Regions from separate parts of the Homo sapiens genome. Here region 1 is linked to region 2. Evidence: fine-mapped expression QTL. A gene starts in region 2. The other region holds a variant in brackets. All regions are shown on one strand. Distances are between the middles of the regions. Region 1 holds the start of KBTBD13 (kelch repeat and BTB domain containing 13). Region 2 holds the start of SLC51B (SLC51 subunit beta).

The links. PIP is the estimated chance that this variant, and not a neighbour inherited with it, causes the effect. A credible set is the group of variants that fine-mapping cannot tell apart.
Region 1: its variant is the best candidate, but not a certain one, in a credible set for the expression of SLC51B in hypothalamus (GTEx, PIP 0.70).

The regions. Positions count from the first base shown.
Region 1 is chr15:65,071,747-65,077,121 of GRCh38, forward strand. It overlaps KBTBD13 (kelch repeat and BTB domain containing 13), which reads left to right and starts at 5,000. Exons shown (of 1, transcript NM_001101362.3): 1 at 5,000-5,375. The coding sequence starts at 5,070. It also overlaps a transcript of RASL12 not described here. RefSeq lists an enhancer at 1-410. The variant A/G (reference allele first, on the strand shown) is at 3,492.
Region 2 is chr15:65,042,438-65,047,804 of GRCh38, forward strand. It overlaps SLC51B (SLC51 subunit beta), which reads left to right and starts at 2,950. Exons shown (of 4, transcript NM_178859.4): 1 at 2,950-3,145. It also overlaps a transcript of RASL12 not described here.

The DNA.
Region 1 (5,375 bases), 29 kb after region 2:
CTGGAACAGGCCATTTGGGAGGGAACTGTAGTCCCGGGACTATGCAGCAGCCCTGGCCCCCTGGGAGTCAGCCCTTCTCCAGCCCTGCCCCCAGCAGAAGGCAACTGTTTCCCTGCCCTGAGACAAGGCTAGTGCAGGTGAGGAGTGGCAGCTAGGGTCAGTGGGCAGGGTTCGATTGAGCCTCACATCCCCATTCATAACCAAGGAAAAGCCCAAATCATTTCTAAGCCTTTGTTTCCTCGTCTGTGAAATGGGAATAGTCAGACACTCTTTCCCTACCACTAAGGCCACCAGCAAGGACACAGTCAAGACCCAGCACTGAGAGCCCACTGGTCCCCAAGATTGGGACTGTCATGCCTGCTGCCTGGACATCCCAGACCATTCAGCCAATATCTGGCCTTGGGGAAAGAAAGAAACTGGCAGAGGGCCTGGGATAGTATTCATGGGGACTTCTGCCCACCCATCCCCCCATCTCCTCCTCCTCTTCCTGTCTGGTCCCTGGGGCAGAGTCAGAGATATTTCTGGCTGCCTCCTCCAGGCCTCTGGCTTCCCAGGCTCACACAAGTGGTCCCCACATCCCATCACTGCTTTGATGGAGTGAACTGGATGGGAGTTCCCTAGCAGGGGAGGCACATTTGTGTTGGCTCTGCAGATTCATACGTGAGGATCTATGCATATGTATCCTAAGGGGGAGAGAAGTTCCCCTGCCTCTTCCCACCTTCTACTTGGTCATTGTGAGCCACTCATTCTCCCTAAGAAGGCCTGCAGGTAAGGATGGGGAGCTAAACATCTGAATGGCAGATACCATTTTACACGTCTGGGCCTCAGTTTCCTCACCTTAGAATAGGTGGCAAGAGGAGATAATTATTAAGCTCCATTCCATCCCAAGCTCCACTTTTGGACCCATAGTTTTAGCTGGTCACCTAGAAAAGTTCTGTGTAGTGGGAAAAGTGCCATGGAGTGGGCAGCAGGAGGCCTGAGGCTGTCTGCTTCAAGCTACAAGACCCTGAGCACTTCCCTCCACTGTGAGAGGATTGAACCATATGAGCCTGAGGTGCCTTTCAGCTATGCCCTCCTGACACAAGGTGACTGCCCAGCATTTGTAGCACAGAGAGGCATCGGAGCACAGTGGTATGGCCCAGCACTTTGGGAGGCCGAGGTGAGAGGATCACTTGAGGTCAAGAGTTCAAGACCAGCCTGGCCAACAAGGTGAAACCCCGTCTCTACTGAAAATACAAAAATTAACCAGGTGTGGGTTACTCTGTCACTCTGGGTGACAGAGTGAGACTCCGTCTCAAAAAAAGAAACAAACAAACAAAAAAACCCCAAACCAACGAACCAAACAAACAAACAAAAACCGACAACAAAAAACACAGTGGTATGGGCATGCCCTCTAGCAGTCCCCAACCTTTTTGGCACCAGGGATTGGTTTTGTAAAAGACAGTTTTTCCACAGACAGCGGAGGGGAGATGGTTTCGGAATTATTCAAGCGTATTACATTTATTGTGCATTTTATTTCTATTATTATTATAACATATAATGAAATACTTACACAACTTGCCATAATGTAGAATCCATGGGTGTCCTGAGCTTGTTCTCCTGCAACTAAACAGTCCCATCTGGAGGTGATGGGAGACAGTGACAGATCATCAGGCATTAGATTGTCATAAGGAGCAGGCAACCTAGATACCTCCCACATGCAGTTCACAATAGGGTTCGCCCTCCAATGAGAATCAAATGCTGCTGCCACTGATCTGACAGAAGGCAGCACTCAGGCAGTAATGAGGATGGGGAGCGGCTGTAAATATAGATGAAGCTTTGCTTGCTCACTGCTCACCTCTGGCTGCGCGGCCTGGTTCCTAAGGTCCATGGCCCCAGGGTTGGGGACCCCTGCTTTAGAATCAGGCTGGCTGCATTCCAGGCCTAGGTCTGCCACTCTCTGGCTATGTGACTAAACCTCTTGGTGCTTCAGTCTCTTCATATATGAAATAAGGCCATTAATAATTTCTAATTCATAGTGTTGCTATAAGCAATAAATGGATAATATCCATGGGGGGAGAAATAATAGTATCTACTCCTGGGATTGTTGTAAGGACTTAGTATAAAGTGCTTACAACAGTGCCTGACACATAATGCAATTAAAGTGTTAGCTATTATTATTTCAGGAAGCCCTTCTTCCCATCCACAAGCATATGATCCCCTAGGCAGCCCCAATTCCTTTTCCCAGGATCTGGAGCCTCGCAGCAAGTGTGGAATTCCCATCCCCATCCCAAGTCAGGGGCTTTATGGGATGCTCATCTGCAAAGCAGGGTTGCTACCTTTCCCATTTTTCAGGAAGAAAATTGAGACTCAAAAAGAGATTGGACTGGCTCAGAGTCAGAGTCAGAAGCCCAAGCCAAATTAAAACCCTGGTCCTGTACCCCAGCCTGGCCCAATGTACTTGCTCCATTTCTGCCTTGTTCTCCAACCTGCCTGTCCCACTCCTCTGAGCTGAAGGGGTGAGGTGGGTATTCATTCTGCCCCAGCTTCTTCCTAGCTGAATGACCCTGGACAAGTTACCTAAAGTCTTTCAGCCTCAACCGGGATATTTCGGATACTGTCCCATGACTGTGAAATAGGTGTTATTATTGGCCCCATTTTATTTTTTAATTAATTTTTTTTTTTTGAGACAGATCCTCACTCTGTTGCCTAGGCTGGAGTGCAATGGCACGAGCTCGGCTCACTGCAACTTCAGCCTCCCGAGTTCAAGCTGTTCTCGTGCCTCAGCCTCATAAAGTAGCTGGTATTACAGGCACGTGCCACCACGCCCGGCTAATTTTTTTGTATTTTTAATAGAGACGGGGTTTCCCCATGTCGGCCAGGCTGGTCTCAAACTCCTGACCTCAGGTGATCAACCATTCTCGGCCCCCAAAAGAGCTGGGATTACAGGAATGAGCCACCGTTCCTGGCCTACTGGTCCCATTTGGAACATGAGGAACGGTTAGGACATTCGCACGAGGGCACACAGCTGGAAAGATGCAGGTGAAATGGGTATCTCCCTAGCAGCCCTCAGTGCGCCCGCACGCTGCAGGTGCACGGTATATGGTCACTATTATTGAGAGGTGACAGCATGCTGGCAGTCCTCAGAGCCCTCGCTTGCTCTCGGCACCTCCTCTGCCTGGGCTCCCACTTTGGCGGCACTTGTGGAGCCCTTCAGCCCACCACTGCACTGTGGGAGCCCCTTTCTGGGCTGGCCAAGGCTGGAGCCCACTCCCTCAGCTTGCAGGGAGGTGTGGAGGGAGAGGCGCGAGCGGGAACCGGGGCTGCGTGTGGCGCTTGCGGGCCAGCTGGAGTTCCAGGTGGGCGTGGGCTTGGCGGGCCCCGCACTCGGAGCAGTCAGCCAGCCCTGCTGGCCCCGGGCAATGAGGGACTTTGCACCCGGGCCAGTGGCTGCGGAGGGTGTACTGGGTCCCCCAGCAATGCCAGCCCACCGGCGCTGTGCTTGATTTCTC[A/G]CCGGGCCTTAGCTGCCTTCCCGCAGGGCAGGGCTCAGGACCTGCAGCCCGCCATGCCTGAGCCTCCCATCCACTCCATGGGCTCCTGTGCGGCCCGAGCCTCCCCGACGAGCACTACCCCCTGCTCCACGGTGCCCAGTCCCATCAACCACCCAAGGGCTGAGGAATGCGAGCGCATGGTGCAGGACTGGCAGGCAACTCCACCTGCAGCCCTGGTGCAGGATCCACTAGGTGAAGCCAGCTGGGCTCCTGAGTCTGGTGGGGACGTGGAGAGTCTTTATGTCTAGCTCAGGGATTGTGAATACACCAATCGGCACTCTGTATCTAGCTCAAGGTTTGTAAACACACTAATCAGCACCCTGTGTCTAGCTCAGGGTTTGTGAGTGCACCAATTGACACTCTGTATCTAGCTGCTCTGGTGGGGCCCTGGAGAACCTTTATGTCTAGCTCAGGGATTGTAAATACACCAATTGGCACTCTGTATCTAGCTCAAGGTTTGTAAACACACCAATCAGCACCCTGTGTCTAGCTCAGGGTTTGTGAGTGCACCAATCAACACTCTGTATCTAGCTGCTCTGGTGGGGCCTTGGAAAACCTTTATGTCTAGCTCAGGGATTGTAAATACACCAATCGGCACTCTGTATCTAGCTCAAGGTTTGTAAACACACCAATCAGCACCCTGAGTTTAGTTCAAGGTTTGTGAGTGCACCAGTCGACACTCTGTATCTAGCTGCTCTGGTGGGGCCTTGGAGAACCTGTATGTGGAAACTCTGTATCTAACTAATCTGATGGGGACGTGGAGAACTTTTGTATCTAGCTCAGGGATTGTAAACCCACCAATCAGCGCCCTGTCAAAACAGGCCACTTGGCTCTACCAATCAGCAGGATGTGAGTGGGGCCAGATAAGAGAATAAACGCAGGCTACCCGAGCCAGCAGTGGCAACCCGCTCATATCCCCTTCCACACTGTGGACGCTTTATTCTTTTCCTCTTTGCAATAAATCTTGCTGCTGCTCACTCTTTTGGGTCCACACTGCTTTTATGAGCTGTAACACTCACCGTGAAAGTCTGCAGCTTCACTCCTGAGGCCAGCGAGACCACAAGCCCACTGGGAGGAACGAACAACTCCAGACACGCTGCCTTAAGAGCTGTAACACTCACAGCGAAGGTCTGCAGCTTCACTCCTGAGCCAGCGAGACCATGAACCCACCAGAAGGAAGAAACTCCAAACACATCTGAACATCAGAAAGGACAGACTCCAGACACGCTACCTTAAGAGCTGTAACACTCACCTCGAGGGTCCGCGGCTTCATTCTTGAAGTCAGACCAAGAACCCACCAATTCTGGACCCATTATTACCATTTCTTCTAAGGATATGAGTGATCACACAGGTCTCCAGATGCCCTCCGGGCCTGCAGCCATACAGCCTGCGGGCCACCACATCACATGAGCCATACTATCTTTAGCCAGGGAGAGATATTTATAGCCCCCAGGGAAGTTTTTTGCTCCAGGGGAGCCCCAGAGTTGGTGGCTGGCTAACCCAAGGCCCCAGCGGCAGCCTCCGCCCGGCCAGCTCGCCATGGCACGGGGTCCACAGACCCTGGTGCAGGTGTGGGTGGGCGGCCAGCTCTTCCAAGCCGACCGCGCCCTGCTGGTGGAGCACTGTGGCTTCTTCCGAGGCCTCTTCCGCTCCGGCATGCGGGAGACCCGCGCAGCAGAGGTGCGCCTGGGCGTTCTGAGCGCGGGAGGTTTCCGCGCCACGCTGCAGGTGCTGCGCGGCGACCGGCCGGCGCTGGCGGCGGAGGACGAGCTGCTGCAGGCCGTGGAGTGCGCCGCCTTCCTCCAGGCGCCGGCGCTGGCTCGCTTTCTGGAGCACAACCTCACG
Region 2 (5,367 bases):
CACTTGTCACACAGAAGTTGTGATGACATGATGAACACCCGTCTGTCTGTTCTGCTAGACTGGAGTCTCCATGAGGGCAGGGACAATCCTTTCGACTGTTTATCACTGGCATAATGCCTGGCACATGGCAACCATGGAACAAGTTATTGGATAGGCCGTAGTAGAAAGAGCTAGGGTAAGAGGAGGGAGAGAAAAGACACAGAAGCAGAAGAGTGGAAAACCTGGGATTGTGCAGGCTCCTTGTTAAGGGGACACCATCCCATTAGAGCACCACAACACTCCTCAGAGGCAGACAAGGGGGATTGAGGTCAAATGGTTCCTTCAGGCACCCACATGGCATGGGCTGTCCAGCTCACAGCCTGTCTCTCCTGGCTACCCAACAGGCATGATGAGCTCTGAGTTGGCTATCAGTGGTACCCCCCTCCCTAGCCATAACAATTGATCCAAGACATAGGTACATGACTCAGGCTGGACAATTAGAGTCCTTTCCAAGAATTTTTAAACAAGAGCTAAGAAAAGTAGCTACTTCCTCTGCAGCTATGAGAGCATGAGCCTGGGTTTCCTATCATCTGGTCAAGCTTCCCGGAGGTGGCCAGCCTGGGGTAATGAGCCTGGCACCCAGAGAAAAGCAGGGAAAGAGCCACAGAAACAAAGCACTACGGGTCGTCAAATCCCTGGTTCCCGTATGCCTCAGGTCAGCTCCACCCTGCCCTTCCTAGTTTATGAGCCAATAAATTCCTTTTGTGTTTAAGAGAGTTAGTGTTGAGCTTCTCTCTTGAAATCTATCAACTACCTTTCTCTCCAAAATGCACCCTGAATCTGACCACTTCTCATCATCTCCACTGCCACCAGCCTGGTCCAAACTACTAATATGTTTTGCCTGGATGAATATAACAGCCTCCCAATGGTCTCCCTGTTCCTCTCTTGCTCTCCTACAATCCATTTTCCACCCAGCAGGCCAAGTGATCTTAGACAAATGTCAATTAGATTATGTCACTTTCCTGCCTAAACCCTCCAGTGGCTTCTCATCACTTTTAGGGTAAAATACAAACTCCTTACCCTGTTTTACAAGGCCCACCATGAGGAGTGGATACTCCTGTCTGTCCTCTGACTTTATTCCATGCCACTTCCCCCTCATCACTATGATTCAGCTATATTGGCCACCTTTTTGTTCCAGACACATTAAGCTCATTATTTCTTCAGTGTCTTTGTACCTGCTTGCTTTCTTTTCTTTTCTTTTTTTTTCTGAGATGAAGTCTTGCTCTGTTGCCCAGGCTGGAGTGCAGTGGTGCGATCTCAGCTCACTGCAACCTCCGCCTCCCGGGTTCAAGCAGTTCTCCTGTCTCAGCCTCCTGAGTAGCTGGGACTACAGGCGCCTGCCACCACACCTGGCTAATTTTTTTATTTTTAGTAGAGACGGAGTTTCACCTTGTTGGTCAGGCTGGTCTCGAACTCCTGACCTCAGGTGATACACCTGCCTTGGCCTCCCAAAGTGCTGGGATTACAGGCATGAGCCACCACGCCTGGCCTTTGTACCTGCTTTTTCAGGTCTTTGCATGGTTAACCCCTCATCATTCAGTTTTTAGTGTAGTAATATAGTAATCATGTCTCCCCCACCTCATCCCTTTCTATCTTATTATGTTGTTTAAGATATTCACAGAAATGATCACTGCTATAATTATCTTTTAATTATGCTTTTGCTTACTTTTTTGTTGGCTATCTCCCCTGGAGTTTGAGCTCCAATGGAGCAGGGCCCTCACCTGTCTTATTTACCATGTATCTACACAGTAGATGCTCAAGTAACATTTATTCAATGAATAAATGAATGCATTACAAAATGAGGAGGAGCTGGAGTTCCAGGCAGCCCCTAGATTCCCTGTTGGGTCTTCTTTCCTCTGCCCCATGCACACACAGTACACACTGTTGACTAATGTTTAACTCATAGAGGAGTTTGGGCTTGACATGTGACCTCACTCAGCCTCTGTTTCATTTGTGAAGTAAGAAATAAGAGTGGGCGGCTGGGCGTGGTGGCTCATGCCTGTAATCCCAGCACTTTGGGAGTCTGAGGTGGGCAGATCACGAGGTCAGGAGATCAAGACTATCCTGGCTAACACGGTGAAACACCATCTCTACTAAAAATAGAAAAAATTAGCCGGGCATGATGGCACATACTTGTAGTCCCAGCTACTCAGGAGGCTGAGGCAGGAGAATTGCTTGAACCGGGGAGGTGGAGGTTGCAGTGAGCCAAGATTGTGCCACTGCTCTCCAGCCTGGGTGACACAGCGAGACTCCATCTCAAAAAAAAAAAAAAAAAAAAAAAAGGAGTGGGCTTATTTCACATAAGCCCACTCCTTGCTAAACCAACAATGATTGCCTAAGATGCACGGAGCCAGTTGGTGGAAAAGTCCATAGACTATCAGAGTTGAATGGTGCTGGTCAGGTGGGAGGAGCACCTCATTCCTGCTTCCCCATCAAGTTACTTGCCTTGGCCTGCTTCCTACTCTCTGGGTCACTGGTGCTCACACAGCCTTTCCCAACCCCCACCTCCAAAGGTCATATTTTACAGCTCCTTGTGAGGAATTCACATCATGCCATGACCTTCACTATGAGAAAGCACAGGCTGTAAAAGGCCAGCCTGGCTCCCTGCTCCGTGGTTAAATATTGATGATATTGGGCAATAGAGACCTGGAGTGGGCACACTACATATCCCCCTGCAGTGATGGAACCCACAGACCGCAGGTCCTCTGCAGTCCATTCTCCTGCCTGTCCAGAGGATCCGGATGTTTTCTCTTTACTTGAGGCCAACACATAACAATGAAAGCACTGGGCTACTGGTGCTTTCGGATTGTGAAAGTCAGGTGGAGCCTGTTTGCACTCTGAGTGCACTCATTCAAGAGGTCAGTCACCCTGGAGTGATACAGAAGGCTCCAGGCCTGGGCGTGTGCTAAGGCCAGAGCTACCAGATGGGTCCAGCTGCCGCAGGCTCTCCAGGCACTGTCCCCTAAGTGACAGCTGTTACTGCCTGGGAGAGCTCAAGTGCAAAGACTATCCTGTTCTCCCATAAAGAGGAGGAAAAGGAAGATACAGAAATCGGTGCTGCTCCCAACAGCAGATCAAGGCAGTCGTCAGGAACTCAGGATCCGGGGTGAGTGTCCTCATCTTGCCTTGGGGATGGGTGGCCCAGGTCTTTGGCAGAAGTCACAGTCCAATGGCACGATGGTTAAGCCCTGTTTAAAATGCAGAGATCTCCCAGAGGGGCTTAAGGAGACAAGACAACTAAATGCAGTATGACATCCTAAATGGGATCCTGGAACAAGAAAAGAACATTAAAGGCAAAACTAACAAAATGCAAATAAGGCATAAAGTTTAATTTAATCATGCAAATGACAATATGATGCTCACTTTAGAAGCAAACTGGATACGTGCTTTGATAGAAATATGTCTTTGGCCGGGCGCAGTGGCTCACGCCTGTAATTCCAGCACTTTTGGAGGCCGAGGCAGGCCGATCACCTGAGGTCAGGAGTTCGAGACCACCCCGGCTAACGTGGTGAAACCCCATCTCTACTAAAAATACAAAATTGGCCGGGTGCGGTGGCTCATGCCTGTAATCCCAGCACTTTGGGAGGCCGAGGCAGATGGATCACCTCAGGTCAGGAGTTCCGAGACCAGCCTGGCCAATGTGGTGAAATGCTGTCTCTACTAATAATACAAAAATTAGCTGGATGTGGTGGCGGGCACCTATAATCCCAGCTACTCAGGAAGCTGAGGCAGGAGGATCACTTGAACTCGGGAGGCGGAGGTTGCAGTGAGCTGAGATGGTGCCACTACACTCCAGCCTGGGCAACAAGAGTGAAACTCTGTCTCTAAATAAATAAATACAAAATTAGCTGGGCATGGTGGTGGATGCCTATAATCACAGCTACTTGGGAGGCTGAGGCAGGAGAATCACTTGAACCTGGGAGGTGGAGGTTGCAGTGAGCTGAGATCATGCCATTGCACTCCAGCCTGGGCAAAAAGAGTGAAACTCTGTCTCAAAAAAAAGAAAGAAATATGTCGCTTGTTTCTGTGGCATCTAACATAGCTGAGGAGGGCTGACTCTCGGTTCTGGATTTGTATCCAATTTGTCATTTTGGTTTTTTGTTGGTTGGTATGTGTTTACTGTAACAATATTAAACATATTTTAAACATATTTTGGCCAGGCGCGGTGGCTCATGCCTGTAATCCCAGCATTTTGGGAGGACAAGGTGGGCAGGTCGCTTGAACTCAGAAGTTCAAGGCTGGCCTGGGCAAGATGATGAAACCCCATCGCTACAAAAAATACAAAAATTAGCCGGGCGTGGTGGCACATGCCTGTTGTACCAGCTGCTCAGGAGGCTGAGGTGAGAGGATCGCCTGTGCCCGGGAGATGGAGGTTGCAGTGAGCCAAGATGGTGCCATTGCACTCCAGCCTGGGTGACAGAGCCAGACTCTGTCTCAAAAAACAAAAAACAAAAAAACACCACTCCACTGTGGACAATAGCTTACCTGCGTCTTTGTACACTGATCTGATTAGTTCCATTAATTAAATATCAAAAATTGGAATTGTTGTCTCAAAAGGTATAAGTACAATAATACCTACATTTAAAAATGCATACAAAGGCTGGGTGCAGTGGCTCACACCTGTAATCCCAGCACTTTGGGAGGCTGAGGTAGGCGGATCACCAACCTGGCAAACATGGTGAAATCCCATCTCTACTAAAAATACAAAAATTAGCCAGGTGTGGTGGCACATGCCTGTAGTCCCAGCTACTCAGGAGGCTGAGGCAAGAGAATTTCTTGAACCTGGGAGGCGGTGGTTGCAGTGAGCCGAGATCACACCATTGCACTCCAGCCTGGGCAGCAAAAACAAAACTCCATCTCAAAAAAAAAAAAACATACATACAAATAGACAAAATATACATAGAAATATATACACACATTAAAAATGGAATTACATGTATTGTTCTCATGAAAGCAGTGTATACGCATAAGAAACCACACAATACAGGAGTGGTCAACATGAATATCCCATGTGTCTAAATCTCATCCCACACCCTAGAAGAAGACTGTGTTTGGTTTCTCAACTTCAATACTTTTCTTTGTGAGTTCAGGGGTTTGCATATGGCACAGGGGCCTGTGGCTGATGTTACTAATCAATCCAGGCACTCTTACATCTGAGACTGGATGGAATGTCACAATCCTTCTTGGACAGTGCTCTGGACAGTCAGTTGGAGCTAGAACACAAGATCACATCTGTTGGCCATTCTTGTAACTTTGTCTTTCCATGATTTTAGATGGGTAGGTAGGCAGATAGATAGATAGACAGATAGATCGATAGATGATAGATAG